Homo sapiens: one gene and its partners. The protein of the gene in region 1 purifies or fractionates together with the protein of each later gene. This does not show direct contact. Each region holds a gene or a part of one and is shown on either strand. Other genes may lie near its edges.

Region 1 (3,650 bases):
TACATGACATTCTGGAAAAGGAAAAACCACAGAGACAGTAAACCCCTGGTAACAACAGTACAATCACAGTACGATCAGTGGTTATTAGGGGTTGGAGGACAGAGAGATGAATAGGTGGAGCACAGAGGATTTTTTAGGGCCATGAAACTATTTTGTATGGTACTATAATGACATATGGATACATATCATTATACATCTGTCAAAATCCATAAAACATACAATACCAAGAGTAAACCTTAATGTGAACTATGAACTTTGGGAGATAATGATGTGTCAATGTAGGTTCATCAATTGTAACAAATGTACCACTCCTGTGGGATGTTGATAATGAGGGAGGTTGTACAGGGGGGAAGGGTATGTATGAAAAATATCTGTACCTTCTACTCAATATTGCTATAAATTTAAAACCACTCTAAAAAATAGTCTTTTAGATTTTTTAAAAAAATGGAAACAGGCGGGTGCGGTGGCTCACGCCTGTAAACCCCACACTTTGGGAGGCTGAGGCAGGTGGATCACTTGAGGTCAGGAGTTGAAGACCAGCCTGGCCAACGTGGTGAAACCCTGTCTGTACTAAAAATACAAAAATTAGCCAGGTGTGGTGGTGCATGCCTATAGTCCCATCTACTCGGGAGGCTGAGGCAGGAGAATCGATTGAACCTGGGAGGTGGAAGCTGCAGTGAGCCGTGATTGCACCACTGCACTCCAACCTGGGTGACAGAGCGCGAGTCTCTTAAAGCAAAACAAAACAAAACACGAAAACCCAGTGACCTGAATTATTCATTTTCAGTCAATTTGACATCATGATTAAAACAACACTGCAATCAATTTGTTTTCAACAAGTTACCTGGGGGTAAAGGTCAACCTCAATCACTGTTAACAATCAATATAATTCACTGATATTAGTTCCTTATTTCTTTTCTGATTCACTATAAAAGATATTAATAGGCTGGGCTCACGCCTGTAATCCCAGCACTTTGGGAGGCCAAGGTGGGTGGATCACGAGATCAAGAGATCGAGACCATCCTGGCCAACACGGTGAAACCCCGTCTCTACTAAAAATACAAAAATTAGCTGGGTGTGGTGGTGTGCGCCTGTAGTCCCAGCTACTCAGGAGGCTGTGGCAGGAGAATCGCTTGAACCCGGGAGGCGGAGGTGGCAGTGAGTGGAGATAGCGCCACTGCACTACAGCCTACAGCCTGGTGACAGAGTGAGACTCTGTCTCAAAAAAAAAAAAAAAAGATATTAACAAATGACAAAATAGCACAAAAACAGCAAGTGAATGAGCTGCAAATTTACTGTTTCTCTCAAAAACTGATCACATGCTATTTTTGTTCTTTGATAGCCTCTGAAGGAAACTGAGTAGAACTGGAATGAACAAGGTTCTTTGACAGTTTATTGTCCCAAAAGCCTAACCTTATGAACTGTTCAGAAGTGGAATATGGCTGAATTCCAACATTCACACATTTCCAAATCTCAGCTAACTGTTAGTTCCATGAACTTTCACAAAAAACACATCTATCTGTGTAATCACTATCATGATCAGGAAAGAGAACAGTACTGAAATCCTAGAAATCGGATTCTTTCTCTCTTCCAATCTCTACCCCCACCTCTTCAAGGTAACTATTATCCTGATTTCTATCACCATAGATTGATTTTACCTAGTTTTGACCTTTATACAATGGAATCATATAATAAAGACGGATAAAATAATGTTGTTTTGCCTCTCCCAGTTGTATCTATGATCTACTGGAAGATTTTGTGATTTTACAAATATATATATATATATACACATTTTTTTTTTTTTTTTTTGAGACAGAGTCTCACTCTGTCGCCCGGGCTGAAGAGTGGTGGCACGCTCTCGGATCACTGCAGCTTCTACTTCCCAGGTCCAAGCGATTCTCGTGCCTCAGCCGCCCAAGTAGCTGGGATTACAGGTGTCCACCGCCACGCCCGGCTAATTTTTATATTTTTTTAGTAGAGATAGGGTTTCGACATATTGACCAGGCTGGTCTCAGACTCCTGGCCTCAAGTGGTCTGCCCACCTTGGCCTCCCGAAATGCTGGGATTACAGGCGTGAACCACTGCACCCGTCCAATTTTGTGCTATATTTGAATTTAATGCTACATGTCAAGTTCTTGTCTTATTGAGCCTGGGCACATGCTAAGGTGCCTTCTGTTTTCTAGAGGTAAGTCTTGGCCTGCCTTGGAAAGGACCAATATATGCCACAGTGACAGACAGAACACACATAACATAAATCATCCATTTGGGAGGATATGTGTGTGAGGTATGAGAGAAAGTATCAGTGAAGCTGTTATGAATCAAATGTTTCTGATCTACAAAAATAGTGAACTTATATGGTTTGACTTTATACGATGTAGAACATACCAAGGAAAGAAGAAAGTTCAAGAAGGTGTTCATACCTGAGAAGTTCTTTCTTATTGATCAAAGCTTTCATATATTCTGAAAGTTTCTTTTGCATTAATGCCAAACGAAGCCAGGCTCTTCCTCTACCTACTGGTGTCCTACAAAAACACAGAAATCAAACAACTGAAAACATAAGCACCAGAAGCAAAGGCTACAGTAGAATCAGTTCACTTATTCTTGCTAATGGTATTCCAGTGTAACAAGCACACTGAGGTGCTCCTCAGGACCTCTCCCAGTACATTCCCATGCAAGGAATTTTTGTGTGTGGGCTAATGTGACCCGGAACAAATGCTTTCAAAAAGAATTACTGAATGTAACTACAATTTGAAGACACAGCCTCTGGGAGACCCAACTAAAAATGTTCCATCAGATCAATAATAGCAAATCCTTATAAATTCAGTGTGGATTATATAAATGTCCAAAGCATGAATGTGGACACAGGCAATCTAGGCCTCTGTCTGATTAAAATTAAACCAGTCTCATTTGGGAAGGTGGTCACTACTTTATAGTTCTAAGGCAGGCTACAGTCACTAGCTCTTCAGGTTAATTTGACAGCTGTTTTAATCTTGACTCTCAAACCCACTGAATACCTTTTTTCCCTAAGTCAAGTACAGCATGCCACCCCCTTAGATATGATTCTCCCAAGTGCTTTAAAAAATAAGCAAATGTTTGGCATTTCAACAAAAAGACAATCTCTCTTAGATGAATAATTATCCCTCAAGAGCACATTTTTCTCAATATTCTGTATACCAATTCTCTCCTGTCAGCACCTATTCATGACATCATGCATTTTGGATTGTTATAAAATAAATTATTCGTACATAATTGTCTTTAGTCTTGCTCTTCAAGGGATAGTTAATAAGAATGCTGTTCCTGAGAAATGGAATTCAACCTTAGACTTACTTAAGTCCTGGAAGATCTTTAACACTTGCTGTTATCTCTGCGGCTTCTGGAACAAGCTTTTCTACCAGTTCTAGAGGCCCCCAGAAGGATTTATTTTGTCCGAGAAAAGTTTTTTTAGCTAAGGCAACAAAAATAAAGCAGTATTTTAATATTCTTTACAACATAAGCGCACTCTCAATACACACACACATACACACACAACTTTTCAGGAAACCAATCCTAGGTTATAAGATGGTTTTGGATTCATTCATGCTTTTAGAATAGATAATATTTTGTGAAAATAAAAAAATTCTCTACTTCCCAAGACTCAGCCCTTCTTCTTT
Region 2 (3,650 bases), on another chromosome or scaffold:
AAATATGCCTAATAAACAGCCATATGTAACGTAAACTTCTCAGCACACTTTATGGTGTTGTCTTTATGGAAGACAACATCCTTATTCATTGGAGATGTATACTGAAGTGTTTCAGAGTAAAGTGTCATGATATGTTCAGATGAGTTACTTTCAGATGGCTTAGCAAATAAGTAAATTTAATGTATTATCTACATACATTAAATTTATGTGTATATATAGATATATACATTGATGTATATATATCAGTGTATATCTATATACATATGTACATTAATATATTATCTATATCCAAATAGAAAGCAAATGTGGCAAAATATGAACAATTGTTGAATCTAGGAGGATATACCGGTGTTCATTGTACTCTTCTTTGAACTTTTCTATATATATGAAAAAAGGATATATATATCCTTTTTTAAAAAGGAAGGGGATAAATAGTTTTGCTGAGTGGCAGTTGCCTGGTAGAAGTGTGACAGCTCCTGTCCAGGGGGAGATGGCTTTGGTGCTTCCTGAGGAAGAGAGAGGTGATCTGGCCCTGGCATACCTGAGTGAGGCATCCTAATGTGTATGAAGGGACAAAAGTTCACCCTTGTGGACCCCACAGGCCGGAGGCCCAGCTCTACTTGTGCCTTGTTTTATGTTTTGTTTCAGGTGCCGCTCAGTGGAATTGGATCTCAACCAAGCACATATGGAGGAGACTCCAAAAAGAAAGGGAGCCAAAGTGTTTGGGAGCCTTGAAAGGGGGTTGGATAAGGTTATCACTGTGCTCACCAGGAGCAAAAGGAAGGGTTCTGCCAGAGACGGGCCCAGAAGACTAAAGGTAAGCAGGCTGGAATTCTTTCATATGGAGCAGAAGCTGACTGCTAATGGACTGCCTTTTTTTTTTAAGGTGCTGAATGAATTGATTAGTGTTTTTTATTTGAGTATTTATTCACTTAGTTAATATATGTTTTTTGAGCAACTAAAATCTGCATGTTACTGTGCAGTCAGTAAATAGATACAGTCACTCCCTTCAAGGAGCAAACAGCTATCATTCAAATATTCAAGAACAGGTGGAGGGATTAGTCACAGGGGCAACATGGAGGTGAGGAAGCAGGGGGCACAGATGGAGAGCTGAGAGCTGCCTTAAGGAGGGGGACTTGAGCTCAGTTGTGTCCCTGATTCATGGATACTTTGTAGGCCCTCATGAAATATTTGAATGCATGGGAAGATAATTGGAACTTTGAGTGTGGTGTGTGTCAGGAAAATAGTGAGTGACAAGCGGGGAAGGTAGGCCGGAAGGGCCTCAAGGCCTGGCTAAGAAGGTGTGGATCTTATTTAATAGACCCAGTATGCTTTAAAAGGGTTAATGTGTCACTGGTGTGGACAATATATTTAGTCAAGGAAGGAAAGGAAAAATAAGCTGTTAGTTGATATAAAGTACTTTTTATTCTCTTGGATTCTCTCTGAGCATTCATTCAAACATCTGATGAATACATGTTTGTTTGGTGGAAGGGGAGTAATTAAGAGGTAAAGGGACGAATGAGACAGCCCATTCCTTGAGGAACTCTTAGGCTGGCTGTGAAAACAGGCTGGGATGTTGTTCTGAAACACTGGGCTCAGTGCTATAGTAAAAACACATTCCAAGAGGTGTGGGCCCAAGCAGGGGAGAAGATGGTAGTGTGCCCATCATTTGGGGACTGGGTCTATGTTTAGTTTTTGCACTGAGACTCTCGTAATGAGCAAATCTGGGCGGTTTGAGGGAAGGAAAATGCTGAGCTTTTGGGCAGAAGGGTGTTTTAGAGGAGAATGTTCTGTGATCTCATTTCTGTTCTGTCTTAAAGTGGAAGAAGATAGGAGTTATCCACTAGCAGTCATTACCTTGAACTTTTGTAGTGTGCTGAGACGTTACATATGGCTGTGTATTAGGCATATTTTATCCTTTTGTTCTGAAATTTCTCTGGTTGGAGATAGTTAAGTATTTCAAGCACCGACACTGAGATTTAAAAAAACCATAGTACCATTGCACTGAAAAATGTTAAATAAAATTAAGGAAACTAGTTCAACCACATATATACACATTATTGAGAAGCTAAGCAGTTACCAAATACTAACGGATAATGTTCTAAAAATGGTCAGTTATGTAAATATTTTGGAACCTGAATGCATTTTTCAATAGAAACTACTGTGGTGTTAGTTGGCTTTCTAGGTAGTTCTCCAGTACTTCCAGAATGTAGGAGAAAAACCACAGGATTGGGAATGAGAAGACCTGGGTTCTGGCTCCAGCTTTGTGCTGTATAGCTTTGATAAATCATTTTATTCCTGATCTCCTCAGTGTCTTCATTTGTAAAATCTGGAAATAATGCCTACCCTGGCAACCTCACACGGCTGAGATGTAGAAACAAGACTCTACATATGGGATGCTACATGGCATATTAAATGCTTTATGAGTATAAGGTGACATGTTTCCAATGTCAAGGATTACTATCAGTGTTGAGCATTTTACCACCCATGTATAGACCCATGGTCCTAATTAGCACAGTCCTAAGATTGAAAACTTTAACTTTAGATCATTAACACTTTTTAATGCTTTTAAGTTTTTGCAAAACTGAAGGACTTTCTTTGGGAAATTAACCTTATTTTTTTTCACCTACTTCAAATACTGTACTAAAAACTATACACTTACCGGAAGAGTTGCAAGGATAGTAGAAATAATACCTTAGTTTTTTAAGATAGCAAATCATATGTAGTTATGTCCTCTTTTAGGAAGCAGTCTATAAAAAATCCAAAATTTAAGTAGATAAATTAGGATTCATTCTTTATTTTACCAAAGCAGTAATATATTGTGATTTGAAGGTGTTCAGTTTATTATTAATATCATCTTAACAGAGCCAATTTAGTTTGGTGAAAAGAGTGCTGGATCAGGAACCAAGAAAGAGAGGGTCCCTTCGTTAACACTCAGTTTCACGACATTTGCTCTATGGGTGTATTGGGTGCACTATTATTTATCTGGTATTTTCATTATGTTGACTCTCCTTTAACAAATGGATTTATAGAGATATAACTGACATATAATAAACTTGCACATATTTTATTTTATTTTATTTGTTGTTAATTTTTTGAGGCAGAGTCTTGCTCTGCTGCCCAGGCTGTGGTGCAATGGCATGATCATAGCTCACTGCAGCCTCAACCTTCTGGGCTCAAGTCATCCTCCTGCCTCAGCTTCCTGAGTAGCTGGGATGCGTGCTACCACACTTGGCTAATTCTTAATTTTTTTTGCAGAGACAGGGTCTCACTATGTTACCCAGGCTGGTCTTGAACTCCTGAGCCCAAGTAATCCTCCTGCCTTGGCTTCCCAAAGTGCTGGGATTACAGTCATGAGCCACTACACCCGGCCAACTGTGCATATTTTAAAGTACAATTAATATGCTTTGGCATTATATATAACATCTGTGAAACCATTGCCACAATCAAGATAATTTTTTAAAACTCAAATTTATTTAAAAGGAAACCTTTATATCATTAGGGTTTTTTTGTTGTTGTTGTTAATTATGTTTTCGAAATCAGTTGGGAACAAATACATATTTAAAAATATTTATCCATGTGCCACCCAGAATTACCTTGTCTATCTTGTATCACACTATGAGAAGCACTACCTTAAGAAATTTGTATCT
Region 3 (4,191 bases), on another chromosome or scaffold:
CCCGCCCCACCTTGGTCTCCCAAAGTGTTGGGATTACAGGCGTGAGCTACTGCACCTGGCCCTAATTTAAACAATTTTCATCAGCCTGTTCTCTATGAAAATCAGGTTCCCACCCCATCCCCTAGGAATCTGTCAGTTACAGTTCAGAAACCTGCATTGAAATTCCAGCCGAGGACAGTATTTCTTCCCACTCTATTTGTCCCCTCTCATCTGTGGAAGCTCAGCAGCATCACAACACGTGACTTAAAAGCTTTCCTTGTGCCGTTTGAGAGAATAAAACTTTTTCCCAGAAGACAATACACCCATTAAAAATAGTAAGCCTGCTGGTAAGGTTATTTGGATGGCACTTTATATCTGCAGAGTACTCTACATGTAAATTTCTATCAGTAATCAAATGATTAGTAGAGTACAGGCAGCCATTTTCCTCTTTTTTGAATCCTATTAGAAGCAGAAAGAGAAGGTATGAAATGTACTCTACTAGATAGATCCATCGCCACGCTGGTCTCCCAAACATCTCCAAGCATTGAATTCCTCAGGTGTCAGTTGGCCCAGTGAATCACCCAGGTGCTAAATCAAATGGCTTCAGTTCAAGGCGTTCCTTGAAAGGAAAGTGTTAGAACTCAGGAAATCCGCCTTCGCAGTGGGCTCCAGGCCTTCTCTCCCAGGCTCGAGGTGGAAGGCGCTCTTGGGTGCTGGGTGTGCCAAGTGGTCACCTCGTGTGCCCCTGTCTTCCCTGCAGTGGCCGACATCCCCGGCATCATACGAGGCGCCCACCAGAACAGGGGTCTGGGGTCCGCCTTCCTCAGGCACATCGAGCGCTGCCGCTTTCTCTTGTTCGTGGTGGATCTTTCTCAGCCTGAGCCGTGGACTCAAGTTGACGATTTAAAATATGAACTGGAGATGTATGAAAAGGGCCTGTCTGCGAGGCCCCACGCAATCGTCGCAAACAAGATTGACCTCCCTGAAGCCCAAGCCAATCTGTCCCAGCTCCGGGATCACTTGGGACAGGAGGTCATCGTGCTGTCGGCGTTGACCGGCGAGAACCTGGAGCAGCTGCTGTTGCACCTGAAGGTGCTGTATGACGCCTACGCGGAGGCCGAGCTGGGCCAGGGCCGCCAGCCGCTCAGGTGGTAGCCACGCCAGAGCGGGGTCGCCTCTGGGCCTCTGTCTGAGCAAACCTGGGTGTGAATTCGGTGGTTTTGAATGCATAAAGTGCCTTGTGGACACGGGGGAGTTGTGGTGCTTCTGGGTCTCTGGGCCCCGCCTGCTGGCCTGAGATGCCCTCATGTTGGGAAGCATTCCGTGCCCCCTACCCCGCCTGCCCTCCGTATTTCCTGCACCTGTCAGCCTGCACCGACTGATGAGCCAGTTGCTCATTTGTGCTGATTAACACCCCTAATAAGGGGTTGGGGTGCCCATAACGGGGTGGCCCTGCCGCTGACTCAGGTCTCCGCCATGCACGCGTGGACTCTCGGATGAGCTCAGCAGAACCGCACAGCCAGAGCCCCAGGTCAGAAGTGCAGACCAGGGTTCTCAGCACAGTGCCCGTCGTGCTTCCATGGCTTGCTACGGAGAGAGACCTCTGGATCCACACTGGGGCTGCGTCTGGCCCGTTGTCCAGCAGCCCTGCGGTACCGCAAGCCCAGGCACCAGTGTCTCGGGGGGCCTCACTGCTGCGCAAGGGGTGGGGCCGAGGATGCAAGTCCAGGCAGAGCGGCGCAGGCAGCTGTGAGCTTTTCTCCATCAGCCGTCTGAGAAGAGCAGTGAGGCCAGCTGCTTCCTGTCCTTCAGAACACTTCTCTGTGCTCAGTGGGAGCCAGGAAGCCTCAGGCTTCACGACTGAATGCACCCAATATCCGACCTGGCTGCGTGTTTCTGGCTGGGCTGCCGTGTGCACAGCAAGTTAACTAGAGGGGCTGTGGGCCATGGAACTGTCAGCGTTATTCTCAGAAGGCGGCCGTGGCATGGGCAGGGTATAGTGAGGAGTGGAAGGAGACGTGTGCCTGGTAATATGGGGCGGAATTTCCACTCAGCTCCATTTGCTGGGGATTTAAAGAGAACCCTTGTGCTACGCCAGGCAGTTACCGAGCCGAAGGGAGATGATGGGCCTTCGCCCCTCAGTGGGATGGCAGCTGAGGGGGCCCTGCATTTGACCGTCGAGACTGCAGCAGCGCCTTTCCTGTCTGTGGTTTAAGTCTTTGCAGTCAAGTACTGATGCATCCAAGCCAGGCCCATGCCTGGTGTCTCCCTGACTGCAGAGGAGCCCCAGGGCAAGGACAGCTCAGCTGCTGGCAGCCTGCCTGGCCCATAGACATCCCCCAAGTAGTCTCAGGCCTCTGACATGTCCCTGAGGGGCCCCTAAGAAAGAAAGTGGAGGGGACACTCCAGAGGCTGTCGTGGGAGGATCATGTGAGCCTGGGAGGTCAAGGCTGCAGTGAGCCGTGATTGCACCACTGCACTCCAGCCTGAGTGACAGAGCGAGACCCTGTCTCAAAAAACAAACAAACAAACAAACAAAAACAGAACATTCTGGGCACGGTGGCTCATGCCTGTAGTCCCAGCACTTTGGGAGGCCGAGGCTGGTGGATCACAAGGTCAGGAGATTGAGACCATCCTGGCTAACACAGTGAAACCCCGTCTCTACTAAAAATACAAAAAAATTAGCCAGGCGTGGTGGCGGTCACCTGTAGTCCCAGCTACTCGGGAGGCTGAAGCAGGAGAATGGCGTGAACCTGGGAGGCGGAGCTTGCAGTGAGCCGAGATCACACCACTGCACTCCAGCCTGAGCGACAGAGCAAGACTCCATCTCAAAAAAAAAAAAAAAGTGGAGGGGACAAAGAAGCAGAGAAGGATGATCAGAAGGGGACCCCCAGCCCTTGGAGGAGAGACGGCAGCCTCAGGTGAGATGAGCCGCAAGGGTCCGGGGCCGCGTCTCTGCACGCTGGGGTGGGGCGCGCTTTGCACAGCAGGCCGGTGCCTGGGCTTTCAGGAGCAATTCCGTTTTGATCTCACATCAAATCTGCAGCTAGAACATGACAGTCCTTTTACCCGAAGCTTTATTTTAATGTCTTATAATTTCAAAGGTCCTTCTATCCTAGAAACCAGAGATGGGTTTTGCATCTATTTGCTTTTTCTTTCAGGCCGCCACAAAGGATTTTGTGGAGTCGCCCCAGGCCTGACGGCGTTAATTATCCCTGGCTTTCATCTTGATGCTCTTGCAGGGGAGGCTCAAGATGCCTTGTGGCTCGACCCCTGCACGGAGCCCCCAGCCCAGCCTCCCCGTGGGTTGAAACCTTGATCTGGGCCTGACTGTGGCTGCTCTGGGGACATGCCCTCGTCCTTTGCTGAAGCTGAGGCTCCAGAGGGGGAGTCACTGCCACGAAGGTTGCCCAGAACTTTCCTTGCTGCAAAAAGCCCCAAGACTTCTCCCTGCCACACACACAGCTTTTGCCATCGCGTTCTAAAAGCTGACAGCTTTCTCTCCAACACTGTTCTCCCTGAGTAGGGTAAAGCTACACTTGGCTTCCCCAGTTTCCTGTTTCCTGCCTAGAAACAAATTTTTGTCAGTCTGCTTTTCAAATGGGATATATGATTCACATACCATAAAATTCACCACTTTATATAATTCAGTGGTTTTTTTGTATGTTCAGAAGGTTGTGCAACTGTCAAACTGCAAATTCCAGAACGTTTTCATCACCCCGAAAACAGACCCTGTGCCCGTTAGCGTGAACCCGCCTTCCCCCTCCCCCGGGCACCCACCCGTCTACCTTCTGTCCCCAGGGACCTGCCTTCCAGACAGATCCTGTAATTGGAGTGTACACTATGTGGCCGTCTGTGCGGGTCTTTAGTAGCCATGCCTGAGGCGGCCGACACCGCAGTCTTTAGTTACGGAAGGGACCGCGGGTGCAGGCCAACCCCCCCACAGTCAGCATGTGTGGGCTGCCTTGGACACAGGGTCTCTGTGTATCCCCAGCAGCCTCAGAACACCTGACCCAGAGACGGCGTCAGTAAGCGCTGGCAGGTGCACGGAGGATGGCGCTGGCATGAGGAGCCTTCAGGCTGCTCCTAGTTTTAAACTATTTTTACTTTTGTTTTTATTTTTTTAAGACAGAGTCTCACTCTTTCGCCCAGGCTAGAGTGCAGTGGTGCGATCTCGGCTCACTGCAACCTCTGCCTCCTGGGTTCAAGCGA

What was found.
Region 2: the proteins of RUFY3 (region 1) and MELK purify together in Homo sapiens (affinity purification with mass spectrometry; one large-scale study listed by BioGRID and IntAct). This does not show direct contact.
Region 3: the proteins of RUFY3 (region 1) and MTG2 purify together in Homo sapiens (affinity purification with mass spectrometry; one large-scale study listed by BioGRID and IntAct). This does not show direct contact.

The regions. Positions count from the first base shown.
Region 1 is NC_000004.12:70,763,347-70,766,996, reverse strand, and holds part of RUFY3 (protein RUFY3), read right to left. Parts: intron 3,446-3,650; coding exon 3,328-3,445; intron 2,523-3,327; coding exon 2,421-2,522; intron 1-2,420. UniProt on the Homo sapiens protein: ARL8 effector that promotes the coupling of endolysosomes to dynein-dynactin for retrograde transport along microtubules. Acts by binding both GTP-bound ARL8 and dynein-dynactin.
Region 2 is NC_000009.12:36,670,350-36,673,999, forward strand, and holds part of MELK (maternal embryonic leucine zipper kinase), read left to right. Parts: intron 1-648; coding exon 649-817; intron 818-3,650. UniProt on the Homo sapiens protein: Serine/threonine-protein kinase involved in various processes such as cell cycle regulation, self-renewal of stem cells, apoptosis and splicing regulation. Has a broad substrate specificity; phosphorylates BCL2L14, CDC25B, MAP3K5/ASK1 and ZNF622.
Region 3 is NC_000020.11:62,199,944-62,204,134, forward strand, and holds the end of MTG2 (mitochondrial ribosome-associated GTPase 2), read left to right. Parts: intron 1-739; coding exon 740-1,134; 3' UTR 1,135-3,140; coding exon of another isoform or gene 3,141-3,298; 3' UTR 3,299-3,625; downstream 3,626-4,191. UniProt on the Homo sapiens protein: Plays a role in the regulation of the mitochondrial ribosome assembly and of translational activity. Displays GTPase activity. Involved in the ribosome maturation process.